Linked DNA regions of Homo sapiens. The protein of the gene in region 2 purifies or fractionates together with the protein of the main gene of each other region. This does not show direct contact. Each region holds a gene or a part of one and is shown on either strand. Other genes may lie near its edges.

Region 1 (7,242 bases), on a different chromosome or scaffold from region 2:
TTTGGGGCTTCCCTCAGTTCTCAGGAGACACATAAAGGAGCTCTATCTTTGGAACAGTGTGAAACACTATACTTTCACTACACTGTCCAAAAGCAGATTTGCTAGGCGATGGGTCAGATGATCATGTAAATATTAATATATCAAAAGTAGATATATTTTTACCTGGCTATTTTTAGACTAAAAGTCTAAAAAAACTGGATAGTCAAAGGAAAAAAGCCAGAGTACCAACTGAATTCAATTTAAAAACAAAGATGTCAGACATGCATCTTCGTGGCATAATTTGTTCTGGGTATACCTTCGCCCTCGTGGAGGAAACGGAAGCAGAGGCAGCATCTACAGAGGATGTGGAAGGCAGCTGAGGCACTTCCATTCCTGTGAGAATCCTATTTTGCAAAACTGGATATTTCAGATAACTGGAAGGAGGCCAAAGTTACAAAATACTCCCTGCCGAAAGGGCCTCCAGAGGCCTGTCAGACTTTCCCCATGACCTATCCAGCTCCTCTGCTGTCAGGGCAGCAGTTGCACATCCCAAGTTCTAGGCACGTGTCTGCATCCACAGCTGTGTGACGGAGTTTGTTTTGTTGGTGGTGGTTTGTTTTGATAGGGTCTCACTTTGTTGCCCAGGCTGGAGTGCAGTGGCATGCAAGGCTCACTGCAGCTTCTATCTCCCAGGCTCAAGGGATCCTCCTGCCTCTGCCTCCCAAGAAGCTGGGACTACAGGTTTGTGCCATCACACCAGGCTAACTTTTTTATTTTTAGTAAAGACAGGATCTCACTATGTTGCCCAGACTGGTTTCTAACTCCTGGGCTCAAGTGATCCTCTGCCTCGGCCTCCCAAAGTGCTGGGATTACAGGCATGAGCCACTGACCCTGGCCATGGCCATATGTGAGTGACTTTGAGCCAGACAATTCAAGTCTCTGGGTCTCATTTACTCAGCTGCAAAATGATCACAATGAGATGACTATCTCCAAACCTTCTCTGATTCTTTAACACAAACCCAGAATTTTAAGAACAGACAACAGAGGCCGGGCACGGTGGCTCACCCCTGTAATCCCAGCACTTTGGAAGGCCAAGGCAGGCGGATCACCTGAGGTCAGGAGTTCAAGACCAGCTGGCCAACATGGTGAAACCCCGTCACTACTGAAAATACAAAAATTAGCTGGGCGTGGTGGCAGGCACCTGTAATCCCAGCTACTCAGGAGGCTAAGGCAGGAGAATCGCTTGAACCCGGGAGGCAGAGGTTGCAGTGAGCCAAGATCGCACCATTGCACTCCAGCCTGAGCGACAAGAGCGAAACTCCTCAAAAGAAAAAAAAAGACAATGGCAGCCATTCCCACCCCCACCCCATGGCTGTAATTCCAGATAACTGAAGATACAGACAACTAGTGTCCCATTACAGCAGAACTGCTCCTAACTCAGGCAGTACCAACTAACAAGAAAGTGAGGAAAACAGTTTTACCAACGTCTCTGTAAGGCAATTAACAAGGCAGAAATTTCAGTTCTCCATCTGATAAAAATATCCGGGGATGTCACACAGTAATCTGGTGAGCTCCAAGACCAAAATTACATACCCAGGTCTTTGACAAAACGTTTCATGTGCAGATTTAAAGGATGGATGACAGAACCTCCTGCCTCGTATTCTTGCCCCTGCACCATCATGGTAGCCAGGCGGCCCCCGACCTCTTCTCTTTCAAACAGGTCTATCTTCACATCTTTCCCAAATTTCTGCCGCAGGTAATAGGCTGCTGAAGTGCCACCAATTCCGGCTCCAATAATCGCTATGAGGGAAAAAAACAGAAGATTATATTTTCCCCTTTTACCAGCTCTGTGAGTTGTTTTGTTTTTGAAAGACCATCAATAGCAGAGGTTGTTACTCAAAGCTATTACCAACAATTTGGTGGGGGAAGAGTGACACCTGCAGCGAAGGTCTAACTCCCTGAATCTGGACAGACACTGTTCCCAGACAAAAGCAGTAGATTAATTAACATATTGACATTAACTCGATTTTTTTTCCAGATGCCCAAAGATTCTCACAGGTCTTTATGGAGGAACCAAGGGGCCTGCACACCCTTCCAGATGCCCAACTCACGGGCACATTAGAGGTGGACCTTTCCAGCACGCATTTTTAATAAAGTGACGGCCATTTATGCCTAGCTTTGTTGTGTCTAGATTCAATGTAGATAGGTTAATGATACCGAAGAACACAACTTTAAAGGGGGGCGGGAGGGAGACAGGAAGCAAAGAGCCAAGGCTCCTGACACTGGAGCTCTTGACAGTGGAAAGAGAACAGATTCTTTCTGCAGCTGTGTTAGTCCTAGGCGGAGAAACTGTGCAAGCCAAGGGCCTCTGAGAGCAGGCCGACCTCAGCAAAGCGGAGCTGGGGGAAGGCGGTTCAGCCTCCCAAGGGAAGCAGGCAGGGTCAACTTGTTTGCACTCCTCCCTGTGCTGTGCCTGCGTGAGCCTGTTAATCTGGCCGGGCGCCCCAGGTCAAGCCAGAACACTGGAGTCTTCACGGTCAGTGTTCAACGGGAAGATAGAGAAACCTAGGCCTCCCCGGAGCCCCACACCTAAGAGACAGGGGCTACAGGTACGCTAGGCGCCTGCCTGCCCGCCCGCCCCTGTCCCCGTCCACGCCCATTCCTCAAGTGGGCACCTCTCCACGCCTGGGAATGCACAGTCCTATTCCGACCAGAGCTGAAAGCCGCCCTGAAGTGTGAATGGGGGAAAGCGCGACCTGCGCAGCTGGCTCGGCCTGCACCGCTGGACTGCGTCGCGGCTGTGGGATCTGGGCGCACTGCGCAGCGGCCGCCCGGCGCGGGGCGCGCTCCAGCACCTTCCCGCGCCGCCCCCTTCTCGCCTACCGATTTTATCTGGCGGAGCACGCAGCTCGGCGCCCTCGGGGCATCCGCAGCTGCACAGCAACAGCCACAACCCCAGCAGCGAGGAGACGAGCTCCGCGACGACGCGCCCCATGGCCTCCACAAGCTCTGCAGCTGGCCTCAAGAGCCCCGCAGTCCTCCCACCGCTGCGCGGCTGCGCGCTCCGCCCAGCCCCGCCCCCAGGCCGCCCAGCCCCTGCGAGCCCCGCCCAGGTCCTGCGAGCCCCGCCCCGACCTCGCCCCGCCGGTCCTCTCAACCCTGCAGGAGCTCCCCACTCTGGGCCACTCAGTGCCCTAAGCACATCCTGCCGCCTCGAAGCCCACCCTCCTTCAGAAGACATCGAAGGCAGAAGCTGGCCGGGCGCGGTGGCTCAAGCCTGTAATCCCAGCACTTTGGGAGGCCGAGGTGGGTGGATCATGAGGTCAGGAGATCGAGACCATCCTGGCTAACACGGTGAAACCCCGTCTCTACTAAAAATACAAAAATTTAGCTCGGCATAGTGGCGGGCGCCTGTAGTCCCAGCTACTCGGGAGGCTGAGGCAGGAGAATGGCGTGAACCCGGGAGGCGGAGCTTGCAGTGAGCCGAGATTGCGCCACTGCACTCCAGCCTGGGAGACAGAGCCAGACTCCGTCTCAAAAAAAAAAAAAAAAAAAAAAAGGCAGAAGCTGAGGCTCGCCTCAGCTCTCCTCCTCCTTCCCTATCTATTTGGGTGAAGCACCTTAGTTCTTCACTAGTACCCTCTTCTGTTCCCTCCGTCGCTCCTCTCAAAGAATGCGCACAGCTAATCGCTGCCAGAAACAGACCAAAGGGACAACAGTACTTACTGAGTGATCACCCTGTTGCGAGAACTGTAAGGTTCTCCGTGAATGGGTAAATGGTGCTAACTGTAAAGAAAAATGAGGGAGACTGAGGATGGGGTGGCCCAAGGTGAAGGGGGTGTAATAGTAGTAACAGACATGAATAAAAGTAGTGTACCTGTAAGGACACCAGAATGTGCCACCCCAAAATACGCCTCTTTAGCCTAAGGATTATTTCAAGCCGAAGACAATTGAGAAGATGTAGATACGATGTAGATACGTGGGTGGAAAGTTCTCCGCCTTCCCCATTTGCCTAAAAGCAGGACATAAATTTTATTTTTTTAACAATTTTTAAATATATTGCATTTTATTACATAAAAGTAAAATTAGTAAAATAATATAATTTGATATACTTTATAATTTATAATTTCTCTCAGTATAATGTAGAAAAGTATTACTCTGAACACTTACTTTTTTTTTTTTTTTTTGAGACGGAGTCTCGCTCTGTTGCCCAGTCTGGAGTGCAGTGGTGCGATCTCAGCTCACTGCAAACTCTACGTCCCGGGTTCAAGCAATTCTTCTGCCTCAGCCTGTAGCTGGGACTACAGGCACCCGCCACCGTGCCTGGCTAATTTTGTGTATTTTTAGTAGAGACGAGGTTTCAGTGTGTCAGCCAGGATGGTCTCGATCTCCTGACCTCATGATCCACCCGCCTCGGCCTCACAAAGTGCTGGGATTACAGGTGTGAGCCACCGCGCCTGGCCATGAACACCTACCTTAAACATTACTTAATTTAGGCTAACTACAATGAGCCTCGCTACTTATATTTTTATCATGCATCTTACATTTTAATGTCCTTACTCTTTTATAGAAAAGGTCATAAAGAATGCCCAACTAATAAAGAATCTCTAATATCTCTGATACAGCAACAACTGATCACATACTTTCACATGTGAATACAATAGAAATAAAGTAACAGCATAAAGTAATTTGAAAGCTGTATTATATTATTATTCACTTTTCAAAAAATTGTTTTCAAGGAAACAAATATACTTTCAATGTAATTACAAAGCTTCAAAAAAACTCCTTTTAAAGTTATATACAAATAATTTAACAACTTTAATTGTGAATTCATTTTTATACTCAACACTCCTATTTAGTGTAATGTCTGAAGTAAAGCAGGACATAAATTTTAAAAGGCAAAGGTATCCCTCTTCCCACACTGCCTGGAAGGACAAAGGTTAATCACTAAAGACAATTTTACGCCTGTTAAATAAAATTCATAGGAAGCCATTGGTTTGGACTGAGCTCCTGCACTAGACTAGGCCCAACAGACTAAACCAAAATGGAGTCACTCAAGTCACTCATGTTCCACATCACAAGGTCAAAACTAAGTTGTCGATCTGACTTTCTAAGAAATCAGGAGAAAGAAAAATAATAGCCAAATTCCCGACAGACCAGTTTGAAGTGACATGATAAGGAAATACCCTCTGCTTTAAACTTTTCAAGGAAAGTAACCTCGAAACAACCAATGCACTTTTCTGTTTCTGCTTTCTTCAGCCCTTTCTGAAAGCCAACCTCCTCCACTCAACTCATAGGAACACTCATTCGATTTTATAAAATGAGGTGTTGCACAATTCTACAATCGCAACTAAAAGCCAATTATGCTCTTTAAACTAAATTAGTTGTAATTTTGTCTTTTGACAAACCTTTATCAGCCAGGAATCTACATGACAAACTTCATTAATGAGCCTTTTTCTATCGCGTATTTGCCTTCCCATAATTTGCCACCCCTAGAGACTCAAAATCATTTTCCTTCTCTTAACACTTCTCTTTTTTTTTCTTTCTTTCTTTTTTTTTTTTTTTTTGAGACGAAGTTTCGCTCTTGTTGCCCAGGCTGGAGTGCAATGGCGCAGTCTCACGGCAACGTCCGCCTCTCGGGTTCAAGCAATTCTCCTGCCTCAGCCTCCTGAGTAGCTGGGATTATAGGGAAGCGCCACCACACCCAGCTAATTTTGTATTTTTAGTAGAGATGGGGTTTCTCCGTGTTGGTTAGGCTGGTCTCGAACTCCCGACCTCAGGTGATCCGCCCACCTCGGCCTCCCAAAGTGCTGGAATTACAGGCGTGAGTCACTGTGCCCGGTTCTCTTAACACTTCTCTAAACATATACTGTTCTTTTTTGAAGATGCTGTATAATCCTGAATTCAAAGCTACCTCTTGGAGATTTGCTCATTTCCCTGGTCTCTCTTTTGAATACGTGACGTACATGTTTTTAAATTTCTGTTTTTCTTTTTTTCTTTCTTTCTTTTATTTATTTTGAGATGGCTTCGCTCTGTCACCCAGGCTGAAGTGCAATGGCACTATCACGGCTCACTGCAACCTCTCGCTCCTGGGCTCAAGCGATCCACCCACCTCAGCCACCAGAGTAGAGTACCTGGGACCACAGGCATCCACTACCATGCCCAGCTAATTTTTACATTTTTTGTAGAGATGGTTTTTTGCCATATTGCCCAGGCTGGTCTGGAACTCCTGGGCTCCCAAAGTGTTGGGATTACAGGCATGAGCCACCATGCCTGGTCCTGTTTGTTTTCTTCTTGTTAATCTGTCTTTTGTTACAGGGGTCTATCACAACCAAAACCTCGGAAGGGTAGAGGAAAACTCTTTTTTTCTCCCCAACATACCATACAATAGAACATTATGCATGCATTAAAAGGAAGCCAGGCACGGTGGCTCACGCCTGTAATCCCAGCACTCTGGGAGACCAAGGCAGGCAGAATATCTGAGGTCAGGAGTTCAAGACCAGCCTGGCCAACGTGGCAAAACTCTGCCTCTACTAAGAATACAAAAATTAGCTGGGCGTGGTGATGCATGCCTGTAATCCCACCTACTTGGGAGGTTGAGGCAGGAGAATCACTTGAACTTGGGAGGCCAAGGTTGCAGTGAGCTGAGATTGCACCACTGCACTCCAACCTGACAGGCTGATCTCAAAAAAAAAAAAAATTACAAAAAAAGAATGTTGGAGCTTGGCGCAGTGGCTCACACCTGTAATCCCAGCACTTTGGGAGGCTGAAGCAGGCAGATCACCTGAGGTCAGGAATTTGAGACCAGGCTGGTCAACATGGTGAAACCCTGTCTCTACTACTAAAAATATAAAAATCAGCCAGGCGTGGTAGCGCACACCTGTAATCCCAGCTACTCAGGAACGCTGAGACAGGACAATTGCTTGAACCCAGGAGGCAGAGGCTGCAGTGAGCCAAGATTACGCCACTGCACTCCAACCTGGGCGACAGAGTGAGACTCCGTCTCAAAAAAAAAAAAAATGGGTCTATAACTAATGTCCTAGTATTATCAGTTGAGAAAAGCTTGTGGTTGCATGATGGGTATAAAATGATCTCATGCCTCTTTTCCTTTCTCTGCCATCGTGGTGTGTTCTTGACTCCACCCTCACCATGTCTTCTCACAAGACTTTCAGGATTAAGTGATTCCTGCCCAAGAAACAAAAGCAAAATCGTCCCATTCCCCAGTGGATTCGGATGAAAACTGGAAATAAAATCAGGTACAAC
Region 2 (7,633 bases):
AGGTTTCCTGCCTCCCGGCTTGGTACTTTTTACATTAAGTCATCCTGTCTCCCATTTAGTTTTATAACCTTGAGCAAGTCACCCAACCAGTCAACAAATATTTTTAAAGACCTAACAACAAGTAATGGAATATCCAACCAAAAGAAATTTAAACAAATAAAGAGCTTATTTTTCTCTCCTAATAAGAAGTCAGGGGGTAGACACAGTCACTGGTACTAGTTCAGCGGTTTAATGATGCCATCATGGACCCAAACAGTTCTATCTTTCAGTTCCATCGTATTTATTGTTGGCTCTTATCAGGATGACTGTTGTCCCATGGTTGCAAAATGGTCATGTATCTCCAGGTATCACATATTTGTTCAATATTTCATTTAACACTTTTAAAGTCCCATGCACAAAATGAGTTACTTTGATTTTACAACCATGATAGCTGTATTCTTTGTAGATGCTCCATCAAGCTGAGGAAAATCATACCCTTTATAGTTGATAAAGGCTTTTTTTCAAAATTATGAATGGGTGTTGAATTTTGCCAAATTTTTTTTTGCATTGACTGAGATCATACGAATCATATGAATTTTCTTCTTTATTCTGTTTATGTAGTGAATGACATTGATTGATTTTCAAATGTTGAGCCAATTTTGCATTCCTCAAAAAAGAATCCCACCTGGTAATGCTATCTTGCTCTTTCAGATGTCGCTGGATTTGATTTGCCAATTTTGTTTTTGTTTTTGTTTTTTTGAGATGGAGTCTCACTCTGTCACCCAGGCTGGGTGCAGTGGCGCAATCTCAGCTCACTGCAACCTCCACCTCCCAGGTTCAAGCAATTCTCCTGTCTTACCCTCCTGAGTAGCTGGGATTAAAGGTGCCCACCACCTTGCCTGGCTAATTTTTGTATTTTTAGTAGAGATGGGGTTTCACCATGTTGGCCAGGCTGGTCTCAAACTCCTGACCTCAGGTGAGCCACCTGCCTCGGCCTCCCAAAGTGCTGGGATTACAGACATGAGTCATTACACCTGACCTTGATTGGCCAATATTTTGTTAAAATTTTTGCACCTATGTAAGAAATATAGGTGTGTGATTTTCTTTCCTTTTTATTTCTTGGTATCAGGATTATTCTGAATTATAAATTAAAAAGTGTTCTCTCTTCCTTTGTTCTTTCAAAAGAGTTTATATAAAATCAATATTACCTTTCTTAAATGATTGATAAACATTTACTAGTGAAGCCATCTTGCTCTGGAATTTTCTTTTTAGGACCTTAAAGATATGGGGTGATTCAAATGTTCTATTTCTTCCTGTGCCAGTTTTGGGAAGTTGTATTTTTCAAAGACTTTTTCCATTTAATGTAAATTATCGAAATGATCAGCATAAAGTTATTCATAATGTTTTCTTATTATATTTTCAATTTCTGTATATCTGTAGGGATCTTCCTCTTTTATGCTTGATATTTGTTATTCGTGTTTTTTTGTCCTGCTCAATCTCACTAGGAGTTTAGCAATTTTGTTAATATTTTCAAAGAACCAACTTGTAAGTTGGTTAATGTCTCATATTATTTTTTATTATTTTTTTCCTCCTATTCACTTCGAGTTTAATTCACTTTCTTATTCTAATGTCATAAGGTGGAAACTTAGATAATTGATTTCAAACCTTTTTTCTTTACTAAAATAAACTTTTAAAGCTATAAATTTCTCTTGAAGGACTGTTCTGACTGCATTCCACATATTTTGATGCAGTTTCATTATCATTCTGTATGCCGTGTTTTCTAACGTTCTTACAACCATGCCTGGCATAAAGTACTTAGTAAGTGTTCCCTCCTGTTAGCTCCAGTTTTTGTTTTTTTTTTTTTGAGATGGAGTCTTGCTCTGTCGCCCAGGCTGGAGTGCAGTGGTGCGATCACAGCTCACTGCAAGCTCCGCCTCCCGGGTTCACGCCATTCTCCTGCCTCAGCCTCCTGAGTAGCTGGGACTACAGGCGCCTGCCACCACGCCCAGCTAATTTTTTGTATTTTTTTTTAGTAGAGACAGGGTTTCACCGTGTTAGCCAGGATGGTCTCGATCTCCTGACCTCGTGATCCACCCGCCTCGGCCTCCCAAAGTGCTGATATTACAGGCTTGAGCCATCGCGCCCAGCCTAGCTCCAGTTTTTGTTTCTCTTGTTAACAAGTGAGAATGGGCCCCTTCAGAGCCTCTTTGCTGTTTCCACTGACTGAAATACTATTCCTTCATATAGGCCCAGAATTCTAATAAATTCCCATTCATTGTGCAGGTGTGACCTCAGACAGCGTTACCTCAAAGAAGCTCTCCCTGATGAACCAGACCAGGATGGTCCTCTCATGTACTAAGTTGAATAGTGACCACCCCCAAAAAATTCATGTCCACCCAGAACCCATGAATGTGACCTTATTTGGAAATAGGATCTTTGCAAATATAATCAAGTTAATATGAGATCATAAGATCACACTGGATGAGGGTGAGCCTTGAATCTAATATGGCTGGTGTCTTTATGAGAAGAAAGAAACTTGGAGACAGAGACACAGACACACAGAGATAATACCATGTGACAACAGGGGCAGAGACCAAAGTGATGCATCTACAAGCTGAGGAAGGCCAAGGATGGCCAGTAGCCACCAGAAGCTAGGAAGAGGCAAAGAAGGATCCTCCTCTAGATCTTTAGAGAGAGCACAGCCCTGCTGACACCTTCATTTCAGGCTTCTACCATCTAGAACTGGAAGACAATAAATTATCTTGCTTTAAGCCACCCAGTTTAGGGCAATTTGTCACTGCAGCTCTAGAATGTAATATGCCAAGTTACACGTTTCCATACTTTCCTATATTTTTCTTTCCTAGCTCTTATCAGACAATTATTACATATAAATTATCAGGAAATATGGATGGTGTGATAATACTTACTAGTCTGGCTTTTCTTCTCTCTCTCTCTGAGATGGAGTCTCACTCTGTTGCTCAGGCTGGAGTCCATTGGCGTGATCTCGGCTCACTGCAACCTCCACCTCCCGGGTTCAAGCAATTCTCCTGTCTCAGCCTCCTGAGTAGCTGGGATTACAGGCACAAAAAAGCCACTATGTCCAGCTAGTGTTTGTATTTTTAATAGAGATGGGGTTTCACCATGTTGGTCAGGCTGGTCTTGAACTCCTAATTTCAGGCAATCCACCTGCCTTGGACTCCCAAAGTGCTGGGATTACAGGCATGAGCCACCATGCCCGGCCTAGTCTGGCATTTTAGTAGAGCCCTCCTTAAGGAAGACTAACATAACCCCAACCAGTGTCTCCAATGGCAAAGATTTTGAAAGGCAGATAATTTCGAAGGAGACTGTCCTTAAAATCACAGTATGTCAGTGGCCAGCTTTAGCTTCTCAATGCTAGCCTTGGGTCACAGGGTTTTCTAGTGTGAAAATTATCCAAACGAGTAATTTCTTATAGCAACAGATTGTCAAAAAAAAGACACTGATGCGCAAGTCATGTGGGAGTCTGAAACATTGGTTCTGCTCTCCTCTGCCTCCAGGGGGTCTTGGCCAAGTCACTCAACCTCTCTGGGTTCCAGGCTCTTAACTGTAAAAGAAGGTGATTGGGGCTACACAGTAGAGTCCCTTTGGCTCTAACCTTCTGAGGCTTCATGGTTTCTTCCGTTAACAGTAGCTGAATCCAGGAAGAGGAGGTGACCCAGGCGGGTGCTGGACCAAGAAGGATTCTGTGTTAAGATGTAGAACTGCCAGTTCTGTCTATGCTTGTTTTACTTGATAAATGGAATGGAGTAGACGTTTCTAGGGCTCTTGTTTTTAAAAATCTTTTAAAGTGGCTGGATTGCTGGTCACTTCCTATCTCTGGGCCACAGTGCATTCACCTGTATACAAGGTGGAAGAAAGGATGGAACCCGGGATTCCCAAGGTCTCTTCCGGCTCTCAAGTGCAAAGTTCTGTGTCTTCAAAGCAGTTTATTGCTAAGCCAGAGAGCTAAGAGAGCTTAGCCTTGTACTAAGTGTAGGTCATGGGGTCAATCTCAGGAACACCCTTCGCTTTATTTCTTCTCATAACCATTGCGTGTGTTGGGGAGGGCTGGGGCAGTCTGCCTCCCCCAACATAGGCACTAACATATGCCATCGACGGGCAAGAATGAAATCCTGGCTCTACCTCTCACGAATCAGGTGGATCTCAAGAGAGACTGAATAAGTGTGAGCCTCCGTTTCCCCATCTGTGAAACAGGGAGAGTTACCGGCAAAGGTGTAAATGTCAAGAGTTGAGCAACAATGCCTAGTCCTTACCAGGTTTTCAAGCGCTATTTTCCATAACCGTTAGGAGCGCTAAGGAAAGATAAACTGCGGTGTCCTAAGTACGCTGAGGCTCGCTGACGACCAGACGAGCACCACGCCACAGTACTGGGTGCCTCCGTGCTCCCACGTCCACATTTCCCGTGCACAGCACACTGGCGTGGCCGCGCGGGTCCACGGAACAGCCCAGCGCTCGGACGCCAATCATCCCGCATCAGGCTCCGCCCCCCAGCGCTCAACGCGCCCCTCGGCGTGCGCGCTCCCGCCGCCAGCGGGCGCGCTCCGGGCGCAGGCGGTGACGTGTTGCCGGCGGGGGCCGGGCGGGGGTGCGGCTCCAGGAAAGGAGCGCGGCCTCCAGGAAGCCGGCTGGCCGTGATGCTGCCCACTGGTGGTCCCCCGCTCCCGGGGTCCCCGGCCGGCCAAGCAGGTGAGGTTGCCTTCCGAGCGTGGGTGAGGGGAGGGCGGGCGGCCGAAGGGGCCGGCGAGTGGGTTGGAGTGCGGGGGCCGGCGGCGCGGCGAGCGGGCCGCGGACGAGCCTCTCTGCCCCAGGCCCCCACAGCCGCCTGCTTAGCCCCGCGGACCGGTTCCCGCCTCCCCTGCCGCGCGGCCACATCCGAGCGCCCCGGGACCAACCCCTGTGAGCCCTGGCGGCCGGCGCGCTCCCCCAGCCCCTGGCAGGGGACACCTGGCGGTCGCGCGCCTCGGGTGACCGCTCGGGATCCCCCCCTCGAATGGGCGGAGCTTGACCGGGCAGCAGGGATGCTGCACCCGGGACCCAGCCGGCCCTGCCTGCCGCTTTAAATGATGACATTCGCTCGTCTTGTCGTTTTCGCTTTGCTTTGCTTTTGCCAGATTTCATGTTAGATTTCTTCTTGGAAAAATGGAGCTTATTGGGCAGTAAAGTGATGATGCACAGCATTGTTTCTGAACTTGAGTAATGCGCGGACCCCTTTTAAAGGAACAATTCTCTCATGGTCTAGAATGTGTCCCAGAACCCTTAGGGTGCTTCAGACCCCAGTTAGATGAACCCTAGTGCAGAGCGTTTTCAGAGAACACTTATCACGAAGGAAACTAAAGAGATCCTTTATGATTCAGGAACTTTCAGGCTAGAAGGTAAACTAGAGGTAATGGAAGAATTCTAAATTAGACACTCAAAGCCCAGGCTAATTTCGCATTGCAGTCTTTGTTGTCTCCTTTTTGTGATGAAAATACCAAATTATCCAGCTTTAGAGAGGCCTAAAAGAGTTATATTATTTGTGTTACCATATATTTGATGTTTTTGTATCAGGTTTGTTAATTCTGTTTGACATAGTAGAATTATAAAATGGAACACTAATTCGTGTAGTTGAATCGTTTATTTCTCTGTTTACCTTAACAGAGGTCTTGTAGTTGTTGCATGTTGAATCTATGGCTTATATTCTTCTACCTCTAATAGGAAATGTGTGACTGAGGCCCTTGAGGATATAGTCTAGGAAGGAGACAAAAATGAACATTTATCTAAGGATTTATATTCTCTACGTATTTACTCAGCATGTTTATTTAAAATAGACTACTCATGAATAAAGAGACGATTCCAATTGTAAGAAAACATCAGGATGTGTAACAGGTTAAATCTTGACAAAGAAACATGTTGACTTGTGCCTTGAAAGAAGTGTAGTCTTGAGAGGAGGACACGGTGGTGGCTCGGAGGAAGTGCTGTTAGTAAATGCCTGAGGCAGGCATGGAGACAGCTTGTGTGGGAGAGAAGAGAGAGACCTGCTGCACTGGAGCTGAGAGATGGTATCTGGGACTGATGAGAGGATAGGTTGGTGAGATAAGGTGGACCAGTTGATGGATAAAAGGTTTCAGGTGCCACACAGGAAACTTGGTGTTGATCCATGGCCTTCCAGAAGGTTCTTAGCTGATCATATTTTGAAGGCCGTGTTTTACAAAGAGTTGCTTGTAAAGTGTGGCGTGCACAGTGAAGGCAGAAGGTGGGTGAGTCGCCAAGAGATCTGTCTTGAGGTAGTGGTGCCTGCTGTGGTCATCTTAGATATGAGGGATATCTGAGGAAGAATCGACTGGCTTGGAGAATGATAGAAGATTGTCAACACCGGATGTGGGAATCAAAGCTGAGAACCAGGTAATCCAGGTCAATGGGGATTGGTGGTACCCGTCTTAGACCTGGAGAATTTGGAGGGTGGTATTAGAGTTTGCATTAGAAGATTTCAACCCTAGAGTTGGACTAGTTGAGCTTGCAGTAACAGGGCTTCAATGAGCTTGGAACGTGGAACTGGAACTTGAGGAAAGTCAGAGTTAATTCAGGAAAAGTGACCAGAAAAAGACTACTTAAAATGGGAACCAGAATTTTGCAAATTAATAGAGGGAGGAAGAGGTTAAGATTTTATATTGAAAAATAAAATTAAAATGTGTAAGATAAATATTGAACATACAGATCATAAATGCAACTACATACATATCTTCTTAAAGAATGAATCAAGTTGTCTTCATGTATCTTTTGTCACTACTGAGTAACGGTGCCACCCGGCAGCCTCCACATCAGCCTCTCACTCTCAGAAAGACAGTTGTTTCTTGCAAAACGCTGCCGGAATGGTTGAGAGCATCTTTAATTTTTCCAGGTTCTCTTGAATCCTTTGATATTCAAATCATTCTTTTCTGAAGTACCCTTCCCTGTGGTACCTTTGCTTATTCAGAAGCTGAGCTCTCCCAGAGGCTGACTTCTCTGTGATTTTGTTTGCCTGTGATTTGAGTTCACTAACATCTGTTTCCTTGCATCTTGTGTTTTTCCACCAGAGGAACCATTTCCCTTTGTGGTTGATTTGCATTGTTTTCGTCGTTATCTGTAGAACTGTCAGTGAGAGACTGACAAAGACATTGACACCTGACTGTAGGCTTTATTCCAATAATGTTCAGCCAAGTAGGGCCCCACTAGCTGAAATCATGAGAATTAATGCATCTCTCTGGTGATAGGTCTAACACAATTTAGGCTTTTTTAAAACATGTCAGTTTTATGTGGTATTACTGAATTTGCCTCCCAGTGCCCTGGTGCGAAGATTCTTAGCTAGAAGGACAATTGGAGTTTACATTTGAAGATCAAATTACCATTTAACTCTTAGGCAATAATCCATTGTACTTTTGTCCTGAGTTAAAATTACAGTGCTTCAGCAGTTATAAGCTGTCCTATTTTCTCTGCTTTTAAACACAAGCTTTGTAACTTAAAATATCTGTTTGTCCTTTTGATCAAAATCATCACATATCTCAAAAAAAAAAAATTCCTGAGACAAACCTCAGATGACACAAAGTTTCCTAAGTGCGCTGTGATCATTCTCTCGGTCACCTTCCTCTTCGAAGTGTGT

What was found. The genes of interacting proteins can lie anywhere in the genome.
Region 1: the proteins of ENTPD4 (region 2) and PCYOX1 purify together in Homo sapiens (affinity purification with mass spectrometry; 2 studies listed by BioGRID and IntAct, with this or other methods). This does not show direct contact.

What each region holds. Positions count from the first base shown.
Region 1 is NC_000002.12:70,253,897-70,261,138, reverse strand, and holds the start of PCYOX1 (prenylcysteine oxidase 1 precursor), read right to left. Parts: upstream 3,003-7,242; 5' UTR 2,975-3,002; coding exon 2,863-2,974; intron 1,780-2,862; coding exon 1,573-1,779; intron 1-1,572. UniProt on the Homo sapiens protein: Prenylcysteine oxidase that cleaves the thioether bond of prenyl-L-cysteines, such as farnesylcysteine and geranylgeranylcysteine. Only active against free prenylcysteines and not prenylcysteine residues within prenylated proteins or peptides.
Region 2 is NC_000008.11:23,454,628-23,462,260, reverse strand, and holds the start of ENTPD4 (ectonucleoside triphosphate diphosphohydrolase 4), read left to right. Parts: upstream 1-4,613; 5' UTR 4,614-4,704; intron 4,705-7,633.